Linked DNA regions of Homo sapiens: region 2 is linked to region 1. Evidence: fine-mapped expression QTL. Tissue or cell type: testis. Region 1 holds a variant in brackets; the other region holds the start of a gene. All regions are shown on one strand. Distances are from middle to middle.

Region 1 (8,107 bases):
AAATTTTCTAAAGCAAATGTGGTGATTGTTGCACAACTCTGTGTACATCATAAAAACCAGTGAATTTTAGGCTTTAAATGAGTGAATTTTATGGCATGTGAATTATATTTCAATAAAGCTTTTTTTTTCTTATTTAATGATGGAGTCTTGCTCTGTCACCCAGGTTGGAGTGCAGTGGTGCAATCTTGGCTCACTGCAACCTCTGCCTCCTGGACTCAAGCGGTTCTCCTGCCTCAGCCTCCCGAGTAGCTGGGACTACAGGTGTGCGCCACCATTCCTGGCTAATTTTTGTATTTTTTGGTAGAGATGGGGTTTCGCCATTTTGGCCAGGCTGGTCTCGAACTCCTGACCTCAGGTGATCCGCCCACCTCGGCCTCCCAACGTGCTGGGATTACAGGTGTGAGCCACTGTGCCTGGCCCTCAATAAAGCTATTTTTAAAAAGGTTTAACCACCTCACCAGAAAGATGTGTATCATTTGTCCTAGTTTAAGTTCAAGGCCCCCCTGTATAGAGTTTTCACGATTAATAGCAATAGCAATTTGATCATTTTTGTGCTCCTAGTTCTATACTTGTCATTTAGTTTACTACTTCTATTTGTTGGGCTTACCACTCATACTTATTAGCCATTGTATGTATGTGAGCAGAGATTGTCTAATACTTATTACCAATTCTAATGTCATCTGAATGCTATAATATCCTCTGGAAACCGTTGATGATTTAGTGAGTACTACTTTTTTTTGTTTTTGAGACCAGAGTCTTGCTCTGTTGCCCAGGCTGGGGTGTTGTGGCGCAATCTCGGCTCACCGCAAGCTCTGCCTCCCGGGTTCACGCCATTCTCCTGCCTCAGCCTCCCAAGTAGCTGGGACTACAGGCAGACACCGCCACGCCCAGCTCATTTTTTTCTTGTATTTTTAGTAGAGATTGGGTCTCACCATGTTAGCCAGGATGGTCTCGATCTCCTGACCTCATCATGATCTGCCATCTCGGCCTCCCAAAGTGCTGGGATTACAGGCATGAGCCACAGCCCCCAGCCTAGTGAGTACTATTTTTAAGCAACCTATTATGGTGGTTGGCATTCCTTTTATCCAGTATGATTCAAATATACAACAGGAGTAGGCATGGTGGCTCACGCCTGTAATCCCAGCACTTTGGGAGGCCGAGGCGGGTGGATCACAAGGTGAAGAGATCGAGACCATCCTGGCCAACGTGGTGAAACCCCGTCTCTACTAAAAATACAAAAATCTGCTGGGCATGGTGGTGGGTGCCTGTAATCCCAGCTTCTTGGGAGGCTGAGGCAGGAGAATTGCTTGAACCCGGGAGGCGGAGGTTGCAGTGAGCCGAGATTGTGCCACTGCACTCCAGCCTGGCGACAGAGCGAGACTCTGTCAAAAAAAAAAAAAAAGTCAAATGTACAATCGTTGTAAAGTTATGCTTTATATGGTATAGAAGACATAATTTGTATGTTTTAGAAAAGGATATGAATAAATTTTTCAAAGCCTTACAGAAATATACTGATGTGTTTGTTGAGTTTGGCTTATATATCACTTAACAACAAAAGTATTTGTTGAGCATGTACTATATATATAACTGTGCTGAGCTCTAGTAAGATACATTATAATATCAAAAATATGCGTATTCTTAATAATCTTATGGTCTAGATGGGAGAGTGATTTCAGAGACAAATGTGAAAAGTTCAGGATTAGACATAATTAAAAGCACTAAAGTGAATTCTGGGGCCGTCTGGAAGATTGATATGGGCCACAGTTAACGGAAAATCTTTATGGACAAATACAACTTTCAGATAGGCTTGTTAAAAAAATTCTTGTTTTTTTAGGTACAAAACTCAAAACATGAACAACAATATATATTACCAATCTTCAAACCTGGTTTGCCTAGAACTGGAATACAGTTGCCTGCGACATATTTTAGAAGAACTAGAAAAGTCAAAGTAATGGATAACAGAAAAGAGCCTCCATTCTTCAATGATGATAACATGGGACCATTTTACTACAGACTTCATTTCTGTGATACCATGGAGCTCTTCATTGAAACATTAACTGGAACATGTTTTGAGCTGAGAGTTTCACCTTTTGAAACTGTTATTTCTGTGAAAGCAAAAATTCGAAGATTGGAAGGTACTCATCTTTCTTTGTTTTTAGGATATGAAAATTAAATTTGTTCATCAATAATGTCTAGTAGTTTTTAAAGTATTTTAATGGAGACAATTTCAAACATATATGATGTTAGAATAAGATAATGAACCCCCTCCTACTCCCTCTCTCCAACATTTATCAGCTTATGAACTATTTTATCCCCATTGCTGTGTTCACCAGATTCTTTGGAAACAAATCCCTGGCATCATGCTATGGTGTGAAATAATATTTTAGAATAGCTTTCAGCAGGTTATGGTGACCTGCAAATTATGCCTTAACTATTTTATAGTTACTTTTAATGTTACTTTATATTTTACTTTTAATGGGAAATAGTAATTATATTCCCTTCTAGGGACCTTATTTCCCTTTTTACACTGCTTTGCAACCACCCTCCTTTTTTTTTTTTTTAATGTGGAGGTTTTCCGAAAAGAGTCTTTGGCTTACATTTACGTATATTCAAAGTTCCCTTAGTATAGCAGGGGTGCTGAATAATGTGTAATGTCTCTTTTGTGGTTTGTATATTTGCAGAAAGTGCCTAAAAAGACTAATTTTTATTAAAATTAGTCTTTGCATTTTGCAGATTTCTGCAATAAGTAATGTTTGCCATTTATAGTTGTTAAAAATCCAGTTTTTAGTAGAAAATTAAATTGTTCCATATAACAGTAAATGGATCTTTGTTGATGGAACCAGCTGGAACTTGCTTGTAATATAAAGGTAGTGACTAGGGTTGCCCTCCAGCTGGTTTAAGTTCAGAATTATAGAAGGATGAGGAGGGTTAGAATTTTTCATTTTTGTGAGGCCAAGGATATATATGAGCTCCTGAATATTTGCTATTTCTCTAGACCCAGGAGATCCTACTGAAGTGAGTGGCTGGCCGAGTCCAGTGACCACATCAGCACATTCAGTAATGACTCTTGAAGCTTTTGTCTGCCCTAAATGATTTGGTGAGATCTAGAGTCATGATAGTTTATTTTGACTTCGTTCTGCTTTGCAATTTATATCATAGTTTAAAGGATACCTTTTTTGGAGCATGAAGGTGAAATCTTGCGTTGTAAATAATCTCTGTACTTTTTATCTCTTTCATGAATTTTAAATAATTTGTATGCAGCAAAAGCACTTTAGAGAGAATCCTGTTTCAATCTTTTTATGTCAGAAGAGTCAACTTGGGTTTAGAGGAGATTAATAACTCATCCAAGGGAAATATTTAGTTTCCATGAGTCAGAACCAGAGCCAAGTTATAGAGTCCTTGTCTCTGTAGGAGGAGACATTGTGGGGACAAAAGCAGTGGCTTTTTGGTTATTAGACAATTGAATCTAAGTTTAAATGTTTATGAACAAATACAGATATTAGGAAATTAAATAAGGTAATATGTAAAATACCTACTATCTTAGTCTGCTGGAGCTGTCATAACAAAATACCACAGACCGGTGGCTTAAACAACAGAAATTTATTTCTCACTGTCTGAAGGCTGAATATCAGGGTACCAGCATGGGCAGGTTCTGGTGGGGGCTGTCCTCTAGGCTTGTTCACTGCATTTTCACATGGCAGAGAGAGAACATAGTATCTTTTTTTTTTTTTTTTTCTTCGAGACGGAGTTTTGCACCTGTTGCGCAGGCTGGAGAATGGCGCAATCTCTGCTCACCACAACCTCCGCCTCCTGGGTTCAAGCGATTCTCCTGCCTCAGCCTCCCGAGTAGCTGGGATTACAGGCATGCGCCACCATGCCTGACTGATTTTGCACTTTTAGTAGAGATGGGGTTTCACCATGTTGGCCAGGCTGGTCTCGAACTCCTGACCTCAGGTGATCCACCTGCCTCGGCCTCCCAAAGTGCTGGGATTACAGGCGTGAGCCACCTAACCCAGCTGAAAAACACATTTTAAGCCCTTTCTGGGTGATCTTTATATTTATATCCTGGAAGACATTTGGGGTCACATGGTGTGAGTCAGATTCTCCAAGTTAGAGGGATATGGAATACGGAGGGCAGAGATGAGGCTGCTTGGGTTCGTCCTGCTGGGAAAATGATTACTCTGCCAGACTGCTTTTTCTTTAGGGGAAGTTTTTGGTGAGTTGAGAACTAGAGCCTGGTGGGGAGAGTGGGGAGGATGGAGGGGCTAGTGGAGAAAGGACTGAAGGAGTGTGCTGCATTAGGAACAAGGAGGCTGCAGCAAGGGAGGAGCAGGGCCTGCTCAGGGATTTACAATGGGCCTTGAAAAAGGGACTGGAGTGCCGAAGCCATGCTGCCTGGCTTCAGATTACTGGCTGCCCAAATTACTTAATCTCTCTGTATCTTAGTTGTCTCAGTCTAAGATAGGAAGAATAATAGTATTTATCTCAAAGGGTTGTTCTCAGGATTAAATGAGTTAAAGGTGAAGTGCTTAGCAGAGTGATCCTCCTGCCTCAGCCTTCCAAAGAGCTGGGATTACAGACCTGAGCCACCAGGCCCAGCCCTCTTCCTTTGTTTATGTAGATCTGAGTTTCTGACCTACATCCTGTTTTTTGTGAAGAATGTCTTTTAACATTTCTTGCAATATGGGTCCACTGGCAACAAATTCCACCTCTTGCTTTCTTTATGTAGATCTTAGTTTCTGACCTACATCATTTTTTCTGTGAAT[AATG/G]TCTTTTAACGTTTCTTGCAAAAAAGCCATCTTTTAACGTTTCTTGTTTGTCTGAAAAAGTATTTCTCCTTCATTTCTGAAGGATAATATTTCAGGGTATAGAATTCTAAGTTGGTATTTTTTTTCTTTCAACACTAAATATTTCACTCTAGTCTTTTCTTATTTGCATGATTTCTGATGAAAACTCCCCTGTAGTAATTATCTTTGCTTCTCTTTAGGTAAGGTGTTTTTTTCCCTTTCCTGGCTGATTTAAGAATTTTGTCTTTGTCTTTGCTTTTCTACAGTTTGATATAATATGTTGAAGGTGTAGATTCTTTGGTAGTTATCGTGTTTGGTATTCTCTGAGCTTCTTGGATCTGTGGTTTGGTATGTTTCATTAATTTTGGAAAATCTGGGCCATTATTTAAGTATTTCTTCTGTCTCATTTTTTCTTCTGATATTCTAGTGGCACCTTTTGAAATTGCCACAACTTTTGAAATTGTCCCACAGTTAATAGATGTTGTTTTTGTGCATTCTTTTTTCTCTTAACAGTCCGTTTTGCCAAGTTTATTTTCTTTTCTTTGTTTCTTTTATTTATTTATTTATTTTGAGATGGGATTTCACTATGTTGGCCAGGCTGGACTCGACCTCCTGGACTCAAATAATCCTTGTGCCTCAGCCTTTCAAGTAGCTGGGACTACAAGTGCATACCACTGTGCCTTGCCTAGGAAGTTTCTGTTGCCATTTTTCTTTTTTTTTTTTTTTTTTGAGATGCGTCTCGCTCTGTCGCCCATGCTGAAGTGCAGTGGTGTGATCTTGGCTCACTGCAAGCTCTGCCTCCTGGGTTCACGCCATTCTCCTGCCTCAGCCTCCCGAGTAGGTGGGACTACACACCCGGCTAATTTTTTGTATTTTAGTAGAGACGGGGTTTCACCGTGTTAGTCAGGATGGTCTCGATCTCCTGACCTCGGGATCCGCCTGTCTCGGCCTCCCAAAGTGCTGGGATTCCAGGCGTGAGCCACCGCGCCCGGCCTCTGTTGCCATTTTTCAAACTTCCCAATTCTTTTCCAGATCCAGTCTGCAGATGACCAATCAAAGGCATTCTTTATTTCTGTTGGAGCTTTTATTTTTAACATCTACTTTTTATTCTTAAAGTTTCCATCTCTGCTTGTATTATCAATCTGTTATTTCATGTTGTATACTTTTCCATTAGATTTCTTAGCATATTAATCTTAGCTGTTTTAATTTCCCTGTCTGATAATTTCAAGATCTCTGACATACCTGAGTCTATTTCTGATGCTAGTTTTGTCTTTTCATACCATATTTTTTCATGTCTTTTAGCATGCTTTGTAATTTTTAGTTGAAAACCAGACATAACATATCAGGTAATAGGAATTGAGGTAAATAGGACATTAGAGTGAGGTTTTATCTTCAACTTGCTAGAAATTGGGCTGTGTTTAATGTTTGCTGTAGTTATAAGTGCCAGAGCCTTCAAATTCCTCTAGTTTTTTCTTGTTTTGTCTCCCCTGTTGCCTTTGAGTTTCCCTAAAGACTCCTCCTTAGAGTTTGCGTCTTACAATTCTTTCCGTTGTAATCCACTGTTGTTATACTGGAGCCTTGTTAGTGTGGTGGTGAGGTATTGGGAAGAGGGGGAACATTCTGTAATCTTATGATTAAATCTTGCAGTGGGCCTGTGCCTCTAGGCTGGGACCTTCAAAGTGTATCTTAGCTTCTCCCCTCCTTCAACTTCTAGTAGTTTAGGTGAGGTAGGGAGGCTAGAGGGGCCTGGTTTCTGGCCCTCAATAATTTCCCAGTCTCATACTAGTCCACACTCAGCCTCTATGAATTCATCAAAATTACCATTCAAGTGTTCCTTCCAGTTTATGACTTTAGAGGCTTCAGCTTCACGTAAATGGATCTTGGCTCTGACTCTCTGGGTTTGCCTATCTCAACAGATTTTCTTATGGTGATTTACCTTACTACCTAATTTCTCTGATGGCACAAAGAAAAGTTGTTGGTTTTCGGTTTGTTCAGCTTTTTTTCTTGTAAGGAGTGGTGAATTAAAAGTTCTCCATATATCAGAGCTGAAACTAGGAGTCTCAACTTCTTAAAAACATAACCGTTTATTTTAAAATTCCAATAACTGTGTTAGCTATATCCTACAAGTTTTTGGTAAGTTGAATGTCAGTGTTATTAAATTCCAAGTATTTGTTTTGCTAAAAATATTTTTTTGTTTAAAAAATTATAATAGTTCTTTAAGGGCTTTGTAATCACAGCAATATATACGATTAGACAGCTTCGATCATTTTTTTTAGTTTATACACATTCTTAATTTGCTAACTAATAATACTGAGCATGTTTTTATTTGTCTCCAAATTCTAACAAACTATTTTTTAGGAAGATATAATTTACATATCATACAATTCACATATTGTATTAGTTTGCTAGGGCTGTCATAGCAAAGTATCACAAACTGGGTGACTTAACAGAAAGTTACACGATTTTGGAGGCTGAAAATACAAGATTTAGTTGGTGACAGTGTCAGGTCCTTCTGAGGGCTGTAGAATCTGTCACATGCCTTTCACCCAGCTCCTGGGGGTTTGCTTTCAATCTTTCTAGTTCATTGGCTTATTCAAGGCATCACCCTGGTCTTCTCATGTGATAATCTCCTTGTGTCTGTGTGTATCTGCCTCCAAATTTCTCCTTTTTATATGGATACCAGTCATATTGGATGAGGGCCCTCCCTAGTTAGCTCACTTTAACTTGAATACATATGTCAAGATTCTGTCTTCAAGTTAAGGTCACATTCTGAGGTATAAGAGGCTTAGACTTCCACCTAAGAATTTTGAAGGGACACAGTATATCATAACAAGTATATCGTTCTGTTGGTGTTGGCAGACATTTACTATCATACAGTCACCACCACAATCAAGATATAGAACAGTTCCATCACCTATCAGAATTCTCCTGTACCTTTTGTGGTCAATCCCTTCCTCTATTCCAAGCCCCTATCATACCCACTGATCTGTTTCTGTTCCTGTAATTTTGCCTTTTTTAGAATTTTATATAAATGAAATCATATACTTTATAGTCTCTTAAGTCTGGTTTTTTTCACTTATGCATAATATGTTTGAGACTTATCATATTGTTATATGTATCAGTAGTTCATTCTGTTTATGGCCGAGTAATGTTCCATTATAAGGAAGTACCATAGTTACTCATTCCCAAGTTGAGGGACATCTGGGTGGTTTTTAGTTTTTGGTGATTACAAATAAAGCCATATAAACTTTCACATACACATTTTTATGGAAGCATAGGTTTTTATTTCACTTGGGTAAATACTTAAGAGTGGAATTGCT
Region 2 (8,107 bases), 130 kb after region 1:
TTGCAACCTCTGCCTTTTTTTGTTTTCCGTTTGCTTGGTAGATCTTCCTCCATCCCTTTATTTTGAGCCTATGTGTGTCTCTACACGTGAGATGGGTTTCCTGAATACAGCACAGTAATGGGTCTTGACTCTTTATCCAATTTGCCAGTCTGTGTCTTTTAATTGGAGCATTTAGTCCATTTACTTTTAAGGTTAATATTGTTATGTGTGAATTTGATCCTGTCATTATGATGTTAGCTGGTTATTTTGCACGTTAGTTGATGTAGTTTCTTCCTAGCCTTGATGGTCTTTACAATTTGGCATGTTTTTGAGTGGCTGGTGCCAGTTGTTCCTTTCCATGTTTAGTGCTTCCTTCAGGAGCTCTTTTAGGGCAGGCCTGGTGGTGACAAAATCTCTCAGCATTTGCTTGTCTGTAAAGGATTTTATTTCTCCTTCACTTACAAAGCTTAGTTTGGCTGGATATGAAATTCTGGGTTGAAAATTCTTTTCTTTAAGAATGTTGAATATTGGCCCCCACTCTTTTCTGGCTTGTAGAGTTTCTGCCGAGAGATCAGCTGTTAGTCTGATGGGCTTCCCTTTGTGGGTAACCCAACCTTTGTACTCTTTCTATCGCCTTCTTAAAACTGGAAGGGTGAGTGAGATAGGGCAACAGTAGCCATCTCCATGTCATCTAGATTAGTTAGATTAGGGATAACACAAAGGAAAAATTAAAATTTTCTCTATCTATCTTAGTCCTTTTACTATTTCTATGGCTTTAATATACTCGAAAGTTCTGCAACCAGCACCATAGTCAATTTTAGAATATTTTCATTATCCTAAAAATAAATCATTGAATCCACTGCTTCCTCCCGTTTACCCATTCCTACCCCAGCTCTTGGCATGCACTGCTCTACTTTCTGTCTCTATAGATTTATCTCCTCTGGGCATTCCATACAACTGTCATCATGTAATATATGGTTCTTTGTGACTGGCTTCTTAGTATAATTTTTTTCTTTTCTTTTTTTTTTTTTTTGAGACAAGGTCTCACTGTATCACCTAGGCTGGAGTGCAGTGGCGCCATACCGGCTCACTGTAGCCTCAACCTTCTGGGCTCAAGCGATCCTCCCAACTCAGCCTCCTGAGTAGCTGGGACCACAGGCATGAGCCACCACACCCGGCTAAGTTTTGAGTTTTTTGTAGGGATGTGGTTTTGCCATGTTGCCCAGGCTGGTCTGGAACTCCTGGGCTCAAGCGATTCACCCACCTTGGCCCCCCAAAGTGCTGGTGTTATAGGCGCGAACCACCACACCTGGCCTACTTAGCATAACTTTTTAAAGGTTCGTCCATATTGTGGCATGTGTCAGTACTTTATTTCTTTTTATTGCTGAATATGATTCCGTTGAATGGATATAGCTTATTTGATTTATCCGTTTATCATTTGATGGACGTTTAGGTTATTTCCACCTTTTGGCTATCATGAGTAATGTGATAGAAACATTCATGGACAAGTTTTCATATGAGGAGATGTTTGCATTTCTCTTTGGTGTATATACCCTAGGATTGAAGTTGTTGGGTCATATGATAACATGTTTAACCTTTTGAGAAAGAGCCAGACTATTTTTCAAAACGACTGCATAGATCCTCACTAGCAGTATATGAGGGTTTCAGTGTCACAACATCCTTGCTAACACTTGTTTGTCTTTTATTATGAACATAATTAAAGTAATATCTAATAGTTTTGATTTGTATTTCCATGATGGCTAATGATGTTGATTAACCCATTTTTCATTGGGTTATTTGTCTTTATTATTATTATTATTATTATTATTATTATTATTATTATTATTATTTTGGTAGAGATGGGGCCTCGCTATGTTTCACACACTGGTTTTGAACTCCTGGCCTGAAGCAGTCCTCCCACCTCAGCCTCCGAAAATGCTGAGATGATAGGCGTGAGCTACTTGCACCTGGCCTTGCCCTTATGTTACTGAGTTGTAAGAGAGTTGTTTATATATTCTAGATACAAGTCCCTTATTACATATATGATTTGCAAACTTTTTCTTCTGTCAGTTGTCTTTAGACTTTTTTTTTTTTAACATTTATAAATAGAGGTAGAGTATTGCTATATTGCCCAGGCCTTTCTTGAGTTCTGGCCTCAAGAGATTCTCTTGCCTTGGCCTCCCAAAGTTCTGGGATTATAGGTGTGAACCATTATGACTGGCTGTGTTTTCCCTTTCTCAGTGGTGTCTTTTGAAGCACAAAAGTTTTTATTCTGATGATGTGTAGTTTGTCTGTTTTTCCTTTTGTGTGAGGAAGAGATCCAAATTTCTTTTGCATGTGGCTATCTAGTTGTCCCAGCACCATTTGTTGAAAACAGTACTCTTTCCCCAAGAAGTGATCTTGGCACCCTTCTTGAAAATCAGCTGACTATAGATACGTGGGTTTATTTCTGGGCCCTAAATTCTATTCCATTGATATATCTATTCATATTCCAGTATGACACAGTCTTGATTACTGTTCCTTTGTTGTAAGTTTTGCAATCTGGAAATGTGAGCTCTCCAACTTTGTTCTTTTTCAAGGTTGTTTTGGCAGATCTGAGTCCCTTGAATTTTATATAAATTTTCAGATCAGCTTGTCAAATTTCTGTAAAGAAGTCAGCTCAGTTTTTGATAGAGATTGCTTTGACTCTCTATGTCAACTTGGGAAGAATTGCCATTTTAACAATATTAAATCTTCTGATCCATGAACATGGACATCCATTTCCAATTTCTTCAACAACCAGCTTTGGCAGTATCTCTTCTAGATGTGAATGTTCATGTTAGGTGGGCTGTATTTTGCAAGTTAGCATTAGTCAAATTGAAGCCCTCATGCCTGGATTGTGAGGCATAGTGCTGAGGTTTAACTGTTATTCTGTGTAAAGATTAATTTAGTTGATATAAAAGATGTTTGGAAATTATGCAAAGAAAATAATGTAATATATGATTTGTATTTTTCATGTAAATCTTCACATAAAAAATGGCATGGCCTGTTTTATCGTTTGTTTGTAAACTCATTTTTATCCTAAATATGTGTGGCATAGGAGGGAGATTGTTTCAGGCAAACTTATAGGTCTGTTGCTTTGTTGTGGTGGTACATATCAAAAGACTAACTTCAATGACAGTGAGGAGGGATGTCCTTCAAAACTGTAAAAAATTTGAGACCCTCTTGCATCTGTGTTTCTGTGCCATAAATAGCCCTTCTCAGGCTTGTCATGGGCATGTACCAATGATGTAATAATGATGATTATATCAGAAGCACCACAGGTAGCTTTTGGCATGGTAGGTATAGGGCTGTGGATATCGTCAGTTTGACCAAGTATTCCAAGAGGCCCCATGGAGTTTGTCATCTGTAATAGAGGACGTTAGTGCATTAGTGATGAAAAAACTGCTTACCACTGACTATTGTGATCTCCCAGGGAGTATAAGGCAGCTCCGCAGTAAGTGCCTCTTGTTTTGTGTGACGTGCTTGAATACAAACATTCAGACTGTTTCTTGGGCACAGTAGTGCTCCATCTTATGCCAGCCTCATCAAAGGCTTGAAATAGAGTAGGTGGTGTGTGATACCTAGACACTAACATCCCCTATTCTATTTTCCTTTTTTTGTTGTTATTATCAATGGTCACTCACTTACTGTAAAACTAGACTTTATAAACAGATTATTATTTTAGCTAATTTTCTTCTATGTGTTGATCCCTCCCAGTTTTTGTTCCTTTTTGTTGTTCATTGATTCTAGAGTTGTGTGAAGGAAGCCATTTCGTGATTCCTGGTGCTCCTCTGCTTGCTTAGTGACACTACTAAGAATTGGCACCAGCCTTACAAACACCTGCCTTTGATCCAGAGTAGAGTTTGGGGAGAGGTAGAGTAAGTGACTGCTTATCAAATGTGACCTTGGGGTTGTCAGGCCCTGTTGTTTACCCTACCTTTTCCTACTGCCTCACCTGTCCCCACCCCCTACCCCAGCACATGGTTAATAAATGAAAATCTCCAAATTCGAGATTCATTCTTTTGGTTGAAGGCTTCCATTTTCTGTTAAAATTTGAACAACATGAAACATTTTACTACATTAAACCTTCTGGATAATTTACGTTTAATTGGTTTTGTATACAGAGTGGGATAGATCTCAGTGGGTAAGTGGGGAGAAAGAACAACACACAATTCAATTATTAGACATTTTGGGGGATGCGTAAGAGAAAACCAGAAACAGGGCAGGAGTACCTGGAATCACTGAAGACAGTTTATGCATACACTGTTATTTTACCTAAAGGCAGCCTTTCTCATGGTTCTTAGGCATGTCATGGTGACCCTTCATATTCCCTAGGAAACCCTTTACGGCAGTGTTTGGCAAACTATAGTCTGGTGGGCCAAATCTAGCCTGCTGCCTATTTTTGTAAATAAAGTTTTATTGGAACATAACTATGCTCATTCATGTACATACTCTTTTTTTTTTGGTGGGGGGGAGGTTGGGGGGTTGGAGTCTCGCTGTGTTACCCAGGCTGGAGTGCAGTGGTGCGATCTTGGCTCACTGCGAGCTCCGCCTCCTGGGTTTGTGCCATTCTCCTGCCTCAGCCTCCTGAGTAGCTGCGACTACAGGCGCCCGCCACCATGCCTGGCTAATTTTTTGTATTTTTAGTAGAGACAGGGTTTCACCGTGTTAGCCAGGGTGGTCTCGATCTCCTGACCTCGTGATTTGCCCGCCTTGGCCTCCCAAAGTGCTGGGATTACAGGCATGAGCCACCGCACCCGGCCCATTTACATGCTCTCTATGGGTGCTTTCATGCTACAGTGGCAGAGTTAATTAGCTGGAACACACTTGGACCACAGTGCCTAAAATATGTATCTTGCCCTTTATAGGAATAGTTTGCCAACAGCTCGTGTAGAGTCTCTACTTTTGGAAGGTTAAGTATGGATCATAGATACCTTGAGTTTAATTTGGACTTCCTAACCTCTGATCTCACCATTATGTGGACTCACAGACAGTGGTTTTAAGGAAAGATCACTGCTTATTTCAGGACAAATGCTTGGTCATGATAAAAAAAAAAGTTTAACTTCAAAAATATTCTTAAAATAAATGGTGGCACTGCTTTGTTTTAATCCTAAGTAGCCAATGGAAGATTATATCTCTGATTATACATGTACGTGATCCACCTGCCTCTTTCAGGTGCTCCCATCTTATTATGAGAAATGTTAGAATTTTCCCCTTAGACATTCATCTTCTATTGTTTTTGAAGACCAAACATTTATGTTGCCGTAACTTATTTAAATATACATATGAATATAAGTATAAAATGTTAAGCTCACTCTTGGAAATTTAAAGTGTTTTAGCTGAGTTATGTTTATTCTCTCTTCATTTTCTCTCAGCTTGAAATCCATGGCCCAAAATGACTCTACCAGTGGAGACTCTCTTCTGTGAAGAAGACGACCAGATAAGAGGTTGGGATGAGCATGCCACTGCATCAGATCTCTGCCATTCCATCCCAGGATGCCATCTCTGCTAGAGTCTACAGAAGTAAGACCAAAGAAAAGGAGAGGGAAGAACAGGTACTGGGAGAGTATCTTTTTTAGTTTCATTATTTTTATTAAATTTTTATTAAAGATGACCTAGAACAGTGCTTAAACTCTAAAGGTCAGGTTTTCTCTGATAATATACTGACAAGCACACAAATAGTTGTACTCAGAAGGAATTGTCTTTTTGTAGATTTCTAGGTTTTCAGATTTTGGTGTAAACTACTGTTTATAAATGGTTATAAATGACTTATCTTCATTGGTTAAATCTACCTGATTATTTTTGGTTAATCACTGTGACTAAGTTCTTTGGATTCTCAGAACATGATGCTGCTAGTTTCCTATTCATCGTAGTGTGAAATTTGGACACCAGATGGCTGGAATTTCTTAATATGTGTCTTAGTCTGCCCTAGCTGCTGTAACAAAATGCCATAGCCTGGGTGGTTTAAATAACAAGCATTTATTTCTCACAGTTCTGGAGGCTGGAAATCTGAGATCAGGGTGCCAGCATGGTTGGATTCTGGTGAGGTCTTACTTCCTGACTTATAAACAGCTGCCTTCTTGCTGTGTCCTCACATGGCATAGAGGGAGGAAGGAAGCAAGCTGTCATGTGGCTGTTCATATAGAAGGACTGATCCCATGGAGAGGGTTCCACCCCTAGGACCTAATTGTCTCCCCAAGGCCCCACCTCCAAATACCATTACATTATGGATTAGAGTTCTGGCATAAAAGTTTTGTGGGAAACATAAACATTTAGTCCATAATAGTGTGTACATGGGGAAGCTATACAAACTTGTTTGGAATAGAAAAAGGAAAATGTCCAACAGTTAGGCCAGGAAGGGAGATTCTTTTTGATATACACCCTCACTGCAGGTTTACTGTAGGTGGTTATTTAATAAAGCCTTATTGAATTTATCTATTTGATGGGATTTTTAAGGTCTAAATAAATAGCATTAATCAATTATTTGTAGAATGGGGATTTTTATTGGTATTGGGAAGAAAGAGAAACCATTCTGTCTTACCTTAGTGTGGGGATGGTTTGAACACCCAGTGGCAGCCTGACAGTTCAGGGTGTCGTGGAGCCCAGATGAGGTGGCAGTAGTGGAAGAGCAGTTGAACCAGGAACTTGCAGGGCCCCGTGAGAGCTTCAGCAGCAATGGCACAGGATGAAAATAGTGGTTGTGTTTCTAGGGTCTCAATTGTGGTATCAGGTTTGATTTGAAAGGTAAATTTTTGTCCAGTGGAGCCCATTTTTATTTATGCAGTTTTTCCTGGCACAGGTTCAACCCAAAATCTTTTGCTATGATTTCTGATCCTCCTGTGCTTGGGAGATATTATTCCTACTGAGTCCCATAAGAAGAGTGAACCCTTGCATTTTACCTAGACTCAAATAATCCACCTGTTTGCTTAGTCTAATCTGTTAACACACCCTCGCTGAAGCCCATAACTTCTACAGAGGGTTAATGACTTTTATACAGTACTCAATACAGTTGATGAATGAATGAATGAGTGAATATGAATTCAGTTTCAGTGATATGGGTCATGTCACTGTGGAGATGATCTTTTATTTCAAATACAGTATGAGAACCTTACAATAGTATACTTTCATTTCTTTCCTTCTGGCCTTTTCATTATTGTCTTTTAATAAATTTTAAACCCTAGAATATATTTAAAAAAATACTTTCTCTTTAAATACTTTTCTTTTAAATAATAATAAAGATCTGTTTACTCAGATAATTACCATTTCTGGTGTATTTCCATCTATCATTTTTCTTTTGTCTAAAGGACTTTAGCATTTCTTATAATGTGAGTTGGCTGACAATGACTTCTTTCAGCTTTATTTAAAAAATATTTTTTATTTGTTTCTTGTATTCTGAAGTTGTGCTTGTGGATCAGTGGGTTTACAATTTTCATAGAATTTGGAGCTTTTTGGCTATTCTTCAGATACTTTTTCTGTCCCCCCATTCTTTCTTTGGGGACTCCAGTATACACATTGACTGGCTTAAAGTTGTCCACTGCTGCACTTTTAATTTTTTAAGGTTATTTTTTCTTTCTGCATTTTATTTTGGATATTCCAATTACTTTGTTTATAATTTCATTAATATTTTCTTTTTCAATATCTAATCTGCCAGTAATTCCGTCTAGTGTGTTTTTCATCTCAGACATGTTTTATCACTAGACATTTGTTTTGGATCTTTTTTATATCTTCCATGTCTCTATGCAACTTTTTTAGTATATGAAATAACAGCTATAATGACAGTTTTAGTCCTCTTTTCTGTCATTGTTGGCATGTGTGACTATTCTGAGTTTGCTTTTCTCCCTCACTTCGGTCAGTTTTATTTTCATTTTTGTTATTATTTTTTACTTATTTTTGAGTACAGATCTTGCTCTGTTGCCCAGGCTAGCATACAGTGGCGTGATCACAGCATACCGCAGCCACGAACTCCTGGGCTCAAATGATCCTCCTGCCTCAACCTCCCAAGTAGCTGGCACTATAGACCATGCCTGGATAAGTTTTTCTTTCATTTTGTAGAGTCGGGGTCTTGCTATTGCCCAGGCTGGTCTCAAACTCCTGGGCTTAAGCAATC

Alleles and levels. Positions count from the first base shown, and alleles are read on the strand shown. Sizes are in standard deviations (SD) of each study's normalised expression.
As copies of AATG replace G in region 1, the expression in testis of the gene that starts at base 3,294 in region 2 goes up (small effect, 0.40 SD a copy in GTEx).

The links. PIP is the estimated chance that this variant, and not a neighbour inherited with it, causes the effect.
Region 2: MARCHF8 starts here. The variant in region 1 is fine-mapped to the expression of MARCHF8 in testis (GTEx, PIP 0.94).

Annotation. Positions count from the first base shown.
Region 1 is chr10:45,657,570-45,665,676 of GRCh38, reverse strand. It overlaps ZFAND4 (zinc finger AN1-type containing 4), which reads left to right. Exons shown (of 10, transcript NM_174890.4): 2 at 1,835-2,135. The coding sequence starts at 1,952. Among named protein-coding and RNA genes, the nearest start is that of ZFAND4, 11 kb to the left of the region's middle. The variant AATG/G (reference allele first, on the strand shown) is at 4,767.
Region 2 is chr10:45,530,558-45,538,664 of GRCh38, reverse strand. MARCHF8 (membrane associated ring-CH-type finger 8) reads left to right here and starts at 3,294. Exons shown (of 8, transcript NM_001282866.2): 1 at 3,294-3,454; 2 at 5,376-5,555. The coding sequence starts at 5,454.